3 separate regions of the Homo sapiens genome follow, and regions 1 and 2 are each linked to region 3. Evidence: fine-mapped expression QTL. A gene starts in region 3. Each other region holds a variant in brackets. All regions are shown on one strand. Distances are between the middles of the regions. Region 1 overlaps LNP1 (leukemia NUP98 fusion partner 1). Region 2 overlaps TOMM70 (translocase of outer mitochondrial membrane 70). Region 3 holds the start of NIT2 (nitrilase family member 2).

What was found. PIP is the estimated chance that this variant, and not a neighbour inherited with it, causes the effect. A credible set is the group of variants that fine-mapping cannot tell apart.
Region 1: its variant is the best candidate, but not a certain one, in a credible set for the expression of NIT2 in whole blood (Lepik 2017, PIP 0.63).
Region 2: its variant is the best candidate, but not a certain one, in a credible set for the expression of NIT2 in sun-exposed skin (GTEx, PIP 0.76).

Annotation. Positions count from the first base shown.
Region 1 is chr3:100,421,518-100,424,281 of GRCh38, forward strand. All of the region lies in intron 1 of LNP1 (leukemia NUP98 fusion partner 1), which reads left to right. Among named protein-coding and RNA genes, the nearest start is that of LNP1, 21 kb to the left of the region's middle. The variant A/C (reference allele first, on the strand shown) is at 1,353.
Region 2 is chr3:100,363,921-100,366,684 of GRCh38, forward strand. TOMM70 (translocase of outer mitochondrial membrane 70) reads right to left here. Exons shown (of 12, transcript NM_014820.5): 12 at 1-1,797. The coding sequence ends at 1,644. Among named protein-coding and RNA genes, the nearest start is that of NIT2, 31 kb to the left of the region's middle. The variant C/G (reference allele first, on the strand shown) is at 1,439.
Region 3 is chr3:100,333,655-100,336,418 of GRCh38, forward strand. NIT2 (nitrilase family member 2) reads left to right here and starts at 1,103. Exons shown (of 10, transcript NM_020202.5): 1 at 1,103-1,144. The coding sequence starts at 1,138. RefSeq lists enhancers at 871-1,439, 1,533-1,582, 1,603-1,662, 1,783-1,862 and silencers at 1,103-1,432, 1,831-2,125.

The DNA of each region.
Region 1 (2,764 bases), 88 kb after region 3:
AAGTCCTATGATTTTTGATGATTGCATAGAATTCTGTTATATAAATATATCGTAATGTATTAGCCTGATCTCCAGTTGTTGTACTTTTAAGATGTTTCCACATCTTACAAGTTTTTGCTATTTTAAATAATGTTATGTGAACAAACATCCTTGTATGTACCTCTTACTACCCACTTGTAAAAAAGAGAGAAATTTCTGGGTCAAAGGATGCAAATTTTTTTTAAAGCTTTTAAATGCATCTTGCCATATACCTTTCCATAAAGACCTTATTCCTGCTAATAACATGTGATATTTGATCCTCAGAAAAGAATGTTATGGAGGTTCAAGTTTTTTTGTTTTAATAGTCTGAAAACTTCACATTATTTTTTAACTCAAACTTTAGTTTTTGCAATTTATTTTCCTAAATGTTGTATTTTGTCAGTTTTCTTTATGTGTATGATGATCCTCTCCTTTATTGTAAATTGCAGCATTTTGTCCCTCTCAAATATGAGGCACTCAGGACTCTCAATTCCCCCAGTTCTTGTTTGGATCACTTCTTATGGAGAGGCTTGTAGATTCAACAGAAGTGCTGAGGCATTACCTTTAGATTCTGTGACATTGCAGTTAATAACTGAAAGGAAGCCTTTCTGAAGTATAGCACACTGATGAACTGGATTGATAAAGTCTTTTTTTTTTTTTTTTTTTGCTATGGAGTCTTGCTTAGTCGCCCAGGCTGGAGTGAAGTGGCATGATCTGGGCTCACTGCAAGCTTCGCCTCCCGGGTTCAGGCCATTCTCCTGCCTCAGCCTCCTGAGTAGCTGGGACTATAGGCACCTGCCACCAAGCCCAGCTAATTTTTTGCATTTTTAGTGGAGACAGGGTTTCACTGTGTTAGCCAGGATGGTCTTGATCTCCTGACCTTGTGATCCGCCTGCCTCAGCCTCCCAAAAAGTTTTTTACATAGTAGTAAATTTTAACAGTAGTAGCTCGTCTGTTTTAGAATAATTGGTGCCTAGGGATTGAAGAGACCTTGAGAGGTCAACCAACTAATAACACTTTTGGAGACAAAGCTACAGAGATTTCATCTTTGGCAGATGAGAATCAGGGCTGTGTTTGAAGGTCTCTTGTGTAAGAGATGATTTATTGGCTCTTCAAAATCTCTTCCAATGTCTAACAACTATTATGAAGCCCACCTTTAGCCAAAATCCTGAAGAATTTAATGATGCTTAATGCCAAGGTAACTGGATATTTATATAACCAATATTTTATAGGCAAATCTCTGAAAACATACCTTGCTTTGTCTCCTCTTTTTTTTTTTTTTTTTTTTTTTTTTTGCACCACTAGTGGCATAGTTTAAAAACAGTTCTCATAAT[A/C]CATGCTTCACGGCTTTTTAGAATAAAAAATAATGGTGATATACCCTTAGAGACATGCTTTAGGACACTTGGTTAAAAAAGGTGTGTCTTTGATGACCACCTCAAAAGAGTGGCAGACTTCACAGTATAACTTGATAATATACAAGGAAATGGATGATTATACTATGACACGTTGCCACTAAACAAGAGTCTGACAATCAGGTCATTGAATAGAACATAGCACACAGTTTCAAGTATTTAAGCACTGCTTTCTGGGAAGTAAAAACTGACTCAAAACCACTGATGTATTTTGACCGTTAAAAAGAAAAAAAGATGTAGCAGTTTAGCTCTTCTGGACATAGCATTTCCTTTCTAGAATGAGACCGGTTCAGTCAAGCTTGAAATCAGTAAGAGGAATGATGCTTTCCCTTAACTGTTAAGAAAAAGAAAAACGAAATAAAAAAAAATAAGTTACTACTGCAACAACGGCATGGCACTGGGACAGTGAAATAAATAAAGGGAAAATCGGATGGGCGTGGTGGCTCACTCCTGTAATCCTAACACTTTGGGAGGCTGAGGTTGGAGGATTGCTTGAGTCCAGGAGTTCGAGACCAGCCTGGGCAACGTAGTGAGACCTCATCTCTATAAAAATAAATAAAGGGAAAATCATTTTCTCATAATTGCATAGTCTCCTAAGAGAGAGGGCACTGAGAAACCACTTGACAGCCCAAGGATCATTTTCACTGATTACCTGGGCACCCATGATATCCGTTCACTTTATGAGAATACACACACTGCAAGCTTCCTATTCTGTAAGAGAAGGTATTTTTTTTTTCACATTCAGCATGATAAGAAAATTCTCATTTTCTTGAGTGTCAGCATGATACTCAAATTCTCAGCTCAGAAGCTGCAGCTGTCGCAGTCACTTGGCAGCTTTTGCATCATCCTGCAGGCTCAAAAAGGTGCAGGGTAAAAAGCGCAGCTCCCTTTGGTACGCATCCCCAGCAGCATCTCCTCAAGGCAGGTGCCCAGGGCCGTTACTAGGGAAAGCAGGTATCTGGGCTTCAGGAGTGGGCTGGAGCCTCCCCTCAGGCCAGGGCTCCCAAGAAAGCCCAGAAGAGCATCTCTCCCAGTGCTGAAAGACTTGACACTTTCTGCTAGTGCTTTTTTGCTGCCCCATGTTTGTTTTAAGAACCTTAGCGTAGTAGAGTAGGGAGCTATCTTTTCCTCATGTTTTTAAAGAAGAAATAGGCTTAACTAGGAGAAAAAATGGAGTTGGAAGTCTCATTTTCTTTAATGTAGTCCAAATCCCTTTTTCTTTCTGGGGTATATTTACATCTTGTTGTTTTGGGAGAATTTTTGATCAAAGATTTGAAGAGTTCCCTTTCCTTCCAGTATTAGGAGATTCCCCAGGACCAACCTGAGGTTCACGA
Region 2 (2,764 bases), 30 kb after region 3:
TAGTTTCTAAAAAAGATAGCATTTGTAGACAAATCTTTTTGGTTTCAACAGAATTAAGCACCCTTAAGGGGTGTAAAAATGCTCCTTTACTCCCAACAGTGTAAACCATAATTATAATTCGTTCTTAAATAAACCTCTCCCCATCCTGAGTATTTCAAAACAAAAGACCCCTGAAGAACACAACCCTTCCCTCACCAGAAAAATCTAGCATATAAGCAAAAGGATGGTCTATAAAAGTGGAAAATGGAAATAAATCGTAAAGTGATTTCTAAGTAAGGAGGTGGAGTAAAGCTTAAACACTGTCAGTACCCCTAGTGAAGACCTGGACCTGGGTAGTTAGTCCTTAGAGATCAAGGTTAGCTCACTACAAAAAGCACTCTACATGTCCTCAGCATCTTCAAAAATAAGTGGCTCAAAATTCCTTAAGCACATGTAGCCATAGTTAAAGCACTAAACTTGTTATTTCAGGAAATACTATGCTCTGGCTCCAAGTCTTACATCCTTTTTGACCCTTTAGCCACATGTCCTTCACGAGAAATTTTAAGCTATTTTAATACTCCCATATATCACACTTACTCTACCTTTATTTGGGTTTTACATACAAGCAATCTGCACTTTGATTTTAAAAAAGTTCTAAAATTTTTTAAAGGATGGGGTCTTGCTATATTGCCCAGGCTGGAGTGCAGTGGCTATTCGCAGGTGCAATCATCATGGCACATTACAGCCTCGAGCTCCTGGTCTCAAGCCTCTTGCCTCAGCCTCCCTAGTAGCTGAGACTATAAATAGTATATACAGTGCCACTGTACCCTCTATCCTACATTTTTAAAAGCTCACCATTAAATAGTACTAATTATTATAGAAAATAGTCACAGACAATTATAAACACACTACTGTTTCATCTTACCTCTTTGTCTGGTCCACTCCCCCATCAATACTCAGTCTTCCAACACATATATCAATTAGAATATTTTGCATCTGCATAATTTACTGCAAGAAAATCTGCTGTTGTGGACTTTAAGAAGAATGTACACTATCCATTAGAGTGGAAAGGGGCCAAGAGGATTAATAAGTGCCACCAAGTTTCTAAAACTGCAGAATCAGAGGCATTGTGCATGCTGACAATGGTTTAAAGGGTCTCTCAATTTTACTTTAATCCCCCATTTAACCTTTGTTTCTTTCAAAAAATCAACTGAAAGCGGTTAACTGAATATAAATCTATTTTACAGCATTTACTACGTTAATTTAAAAATCAACATGCTGTAAAATACTTACATTATTCACACATATATAGACGGAATCATCCAGAACATAATCAACTGCCAACCCCCCTTAAAAAAAAAATCAACAAATCAGTTTTTATTTGCATGGCCAATTATCATTTGTACTCTTTGCAACTTTATTTAAAAATCCCTTTAACATGTTCTAATCTTTTGTTGCA[C/G]AGGGAATAAAAGCTGCAAGACTGCAAACTTCCTTCAACAGCCACACCCACAACACCTAGACATGAAACAGATGTAACAAATAACAACACCACAAACAGAAATACTGATTTCCACCATTCAACACAGTTCATGACAGTGTCTTTAGGGTTCAGTTGAAGAGGGGGTAAACTTTTAAAAAGAGGGTCAGTCTGCTTTCCCCCTGTTTTATAATGTTGGTGGTTTTAATCCGTATTTCTTTGCAACTTCTGTCTGGGCATGGGCGGCATCGCAAAGTGAATACAGATGGGCCATCTCCATTTCCGATTTGGCCAGGTTAATAGCTTTGTTGAACATGTCAATGGCTTTCTCCATGTTTCCTCTAAAAGAACAAAATTTTTAAGTCTCAGATTCAACAAGCACTTCACAATATTCAATGAAGGTTGTAAGTGATGGTACATGAAGTCTGACCACTAAGTTTCTTCACAATATTCAATGAAGGTTGTAAGTGATGCTACATGAAGTCTGACCACTAAGTTTCTACTATGATTCTAGTAAAATGCTTCTTTTAAAATAAACAAGAGTACCTACCACATTGAAAGCACTCAATGAATGTCAACTACTATTACAAATACTATGTGCTTACATTATATCCCTTGTATTCTGTGTTTACTGATAAGAACAGTCAGACTAGGGAAATTGATTGGCTTATTTAAAATCACAATTCCGTCTGGTTCCTAAATTTTACATGTTTCTACTGTTAACATGAGACTCCTTTAGAAAGCAGTGACATAATACCGGGACACTAATGACATGCAAGGGCCTTACCTTCACAGACTGATGTGGGCCCACCTCTTTCTGTTTCATCTCTTACCAGCACATCCCCAACCCCATGCATCTCTACTCTTCAGGCAGTCTATGTGAGTTCCTCACACCTACTCAATAAATACTCAGATTTATTGCCTCTGCCTGATTCTGGTCAAATCCACAGCTATCTAAGAACCAACTGTTTTAAGTAACTAGTATTAGCTACATATATATGCAATCCTACAAAGAATATTAAGTCCCTACTATATATATATATACCTGCATATACAGAGTCTAACTGGCATACATGTTAGTAAGGTACATTTTATTGGCATATGTGCCAGTTAGACTTTATATGCCAGTAAGAGGTACCACTAGGGTGACTATATTTAATCCCCCATTATAATATATGGCAACGTGATAGGCTTATTTTTAAAAAAAACTTTTTTCAAGAGTTCATGTTCTGGCATTAGGCCAACAGCTAGCAGATCTGCAAAATCCTAGGATAATCTGCAATTTCATTTATTCAAATTCACTTATTT
Region 3 (2,764 bases):
AGTTGCCCCCAAAATGTTTTTATAGTGTTCTTTTACAAACCAAGATCTGTTTCAGTATAAACTATTCTGGGGCATTCCAAAAGGTGGTTAAGTTTTGGATTTTTGTTCCACAAGTCTGACAAGGCACAAAAACACAAAACACGAAAATTAAAAAGCAATCTAATAAATAAAAATGCAAAAATCATAGTCTATAGGCTGGGCGCAGCAGCTCACGCCTATAATTCCAGCACTTTGGGAGGCTAAGGCAGTAGGGTCTTGAGCTCAGGAGTTTGAGACCAGCCTGGGCAAAATAGCAAGGCCCCACCTCTATTAAAAGTAAAAAACTTAAAAAAAAAAAAAAAAGAAAGAAAGAAAGAAAAAGAAAAAAGGAAAAGAAATAGCTAGGTGTGGTGGTGTGTGCCTGTAGTCCCAGCTACTTGGGAGGCTGAGGACGGAGGATCGCTTGAGCCGGGAGGTTGAGGCTGCAATGGGCTGAGACTGCTGCACTGCACTCCTGACTGGATGACAGAGTGAGACCCTGTCTAAAACAAACAAACAAAAAAGGATATTAGCAAAGAGATGACAATGTATTCGAGGACTGACTTGTTGAGGGCATGGCGTTGAACCCTCAGCATCTTTCCCGTTGGCCTAGCAGCCTTGTAGTCAGATTTTACAGACGTCTCGCGTGCCTAAACCAACCAGGGTCATTCCGTCCCCGTCACAGAGACTTGTTCAAATAGCTCAAGCCCATCAGCATACGGTGTTAACCTGGCCACAGAGGTGATTCAACCAGCTAGAAGTTCAGTCCTTTTGCGGAGAATCAGCAAACGCTACAAATCAGGGCTTTCCTCCCTGAAAAGTCTGGTTGTTAAGACATTCACCAGCACACCACCTCGACTTAGGCCGTTCCCTTTTGCCCTTTGCCTTTCGAGGCATGCTTTTTCCGGACTGTGTTGCAATTAACCATTTCTCGTTGGTCCGTCCTGGTGTTACAGGCGCACTGGAATGAACGCAGACCCTTCTCTCCTCCCGGCCGGGGCCAGGAGGAGGGGTGGGGCGGGGCCTCTGACGCGGTCCCCGCCCCACCGTAGCGACGCCGCGGTCCGCCGGATCTCCAGCGCTCAGTCCGCGCCGCAGGTGGTGCTTGTCTGCAGAGTCATGACCTGTAAGTGGCGCGGCCGCGCGCTGCAGCTCGAGTTCGGGCCGCGGGGGAGGCTTTGGAGCGGCGCCGGCGGTGGCTCGGCCGGCTCAGCCCCTCCGCCCCGCGTCCCCGCCGTGCGCGGCCTTCCCTGAGGCGGGCGTCCGCGTGGGTCCGGGATCGCGTGGCCGGGCGGCCGGGCGCACTCCCGGGATTCCAGGCTTCCGGGGTGGCGGGCGAGGCCCAGAAAGCACCAGGCCACCCGGCCGCGCCGGCACCCGCCGCGTCCTGCTTGACAGAGGCTGATGGACGTGTATTTCTCCACGGTGTGGGCCGCGGTGGTAGGATCCAACTCCCTTGGGTGTTTTCAAGTTGCGTGACCTCCTCCAGCCCCGCCCTGCACAAAGGTGCCCAGGCGGTTCTTCGTCTCCCCACTCACTTTCCAGCTCCAGATTTTGACTTGGATTCTTGCTGTGTCACTTACTTTGTTCAGTGACTTTGTGCAGCTTTCCCCCTGCAAGTCCCCTGTTTCTTTATTTGTAAAATGATGTTAATGATACCTCACACAATGATGTTAATGTGTGAAGGACCTGGCACATTGCTTTAAATGTTATTCCTTTGTTGTTTCCTTCGCTCACAGTATTTTATTCTTTTTTTCCGCCCCTTGGTAAGGTCTTCGTTGTTAGATTATGATGAATATTAGGGCAGCCTTAAAAGTCTTCACTTTACAGATGAGATGGAGTGACGGGCGTCTCCTCCTCAGCATGAGGAACTGCCCAGTGGCGGGGTTTCCCTGCTGCAGCATGTCTGTAGAGTGGGTCATTTGCAGAATGATAGGCAGTCCTAAGCTTAGTTGAGGACCCCGCCCTTGTGGGTGAGATGTGTAGGAGAGGAAGCCATCAGCGTAGCCATGGTGAGCTTTATCTTTCCCACCCTCGGAAGCACAGACATGGCCCGGCACGTGGCTCACGCCTGTAATCCCAACAGTTTGGGAAGCTGAGGCACGAGGATCGCTTGAGTTCACGAGTCAAGAGTTGGAGACCAGCCTGGGCAACATGGCGACACCTTGTCTGTACTAAAAAATACAAAATTAGCCCGGTGTGGTGGCACGCCCCTTTAGTCCCAAACTACTTGGGAAGCTGAGGAGGGAGAATGGCTTAACGCTGGGAAATGGAGGGGAGACGTTTAGTGGATTTATCTGCTGTTCTGATAACAGCTCAAAATATCTGTTTGCCCCAGAATAATCCCAGCTTTTATTTCCTGTTTTAGTTTCCCTTCAGATTCTATAACTATTTAGCAGGCTGCCTTCAGGGTTAAATTTAGTGCTTCTCACTATATTTAGGATAGATCAAGGAATGGGACATCTGAGTTTTCCTTTTAGTTAACCCTGAGCCAAACAGGCCTTCATCAGAGGCCAGGGTTTGTCATTGTTGCCTTTTCTGGAGACATTTGCGTTGTTACAGGAAACACCCAAAAGAGATAGCTCTCTAATGGTAGGATTTTCAGACTCTGGAGCAGAGGTGGGATGGGAAGTTCGGGCAGGCCATTACTAATTGAAGGGGTGGGTTGCCCCTCCACACCTGTGGGTGTTTCTCGTTAGGTGGAACGAGAGACTTGGAAAAGAAAAAGACACAAACAAAGTATAGA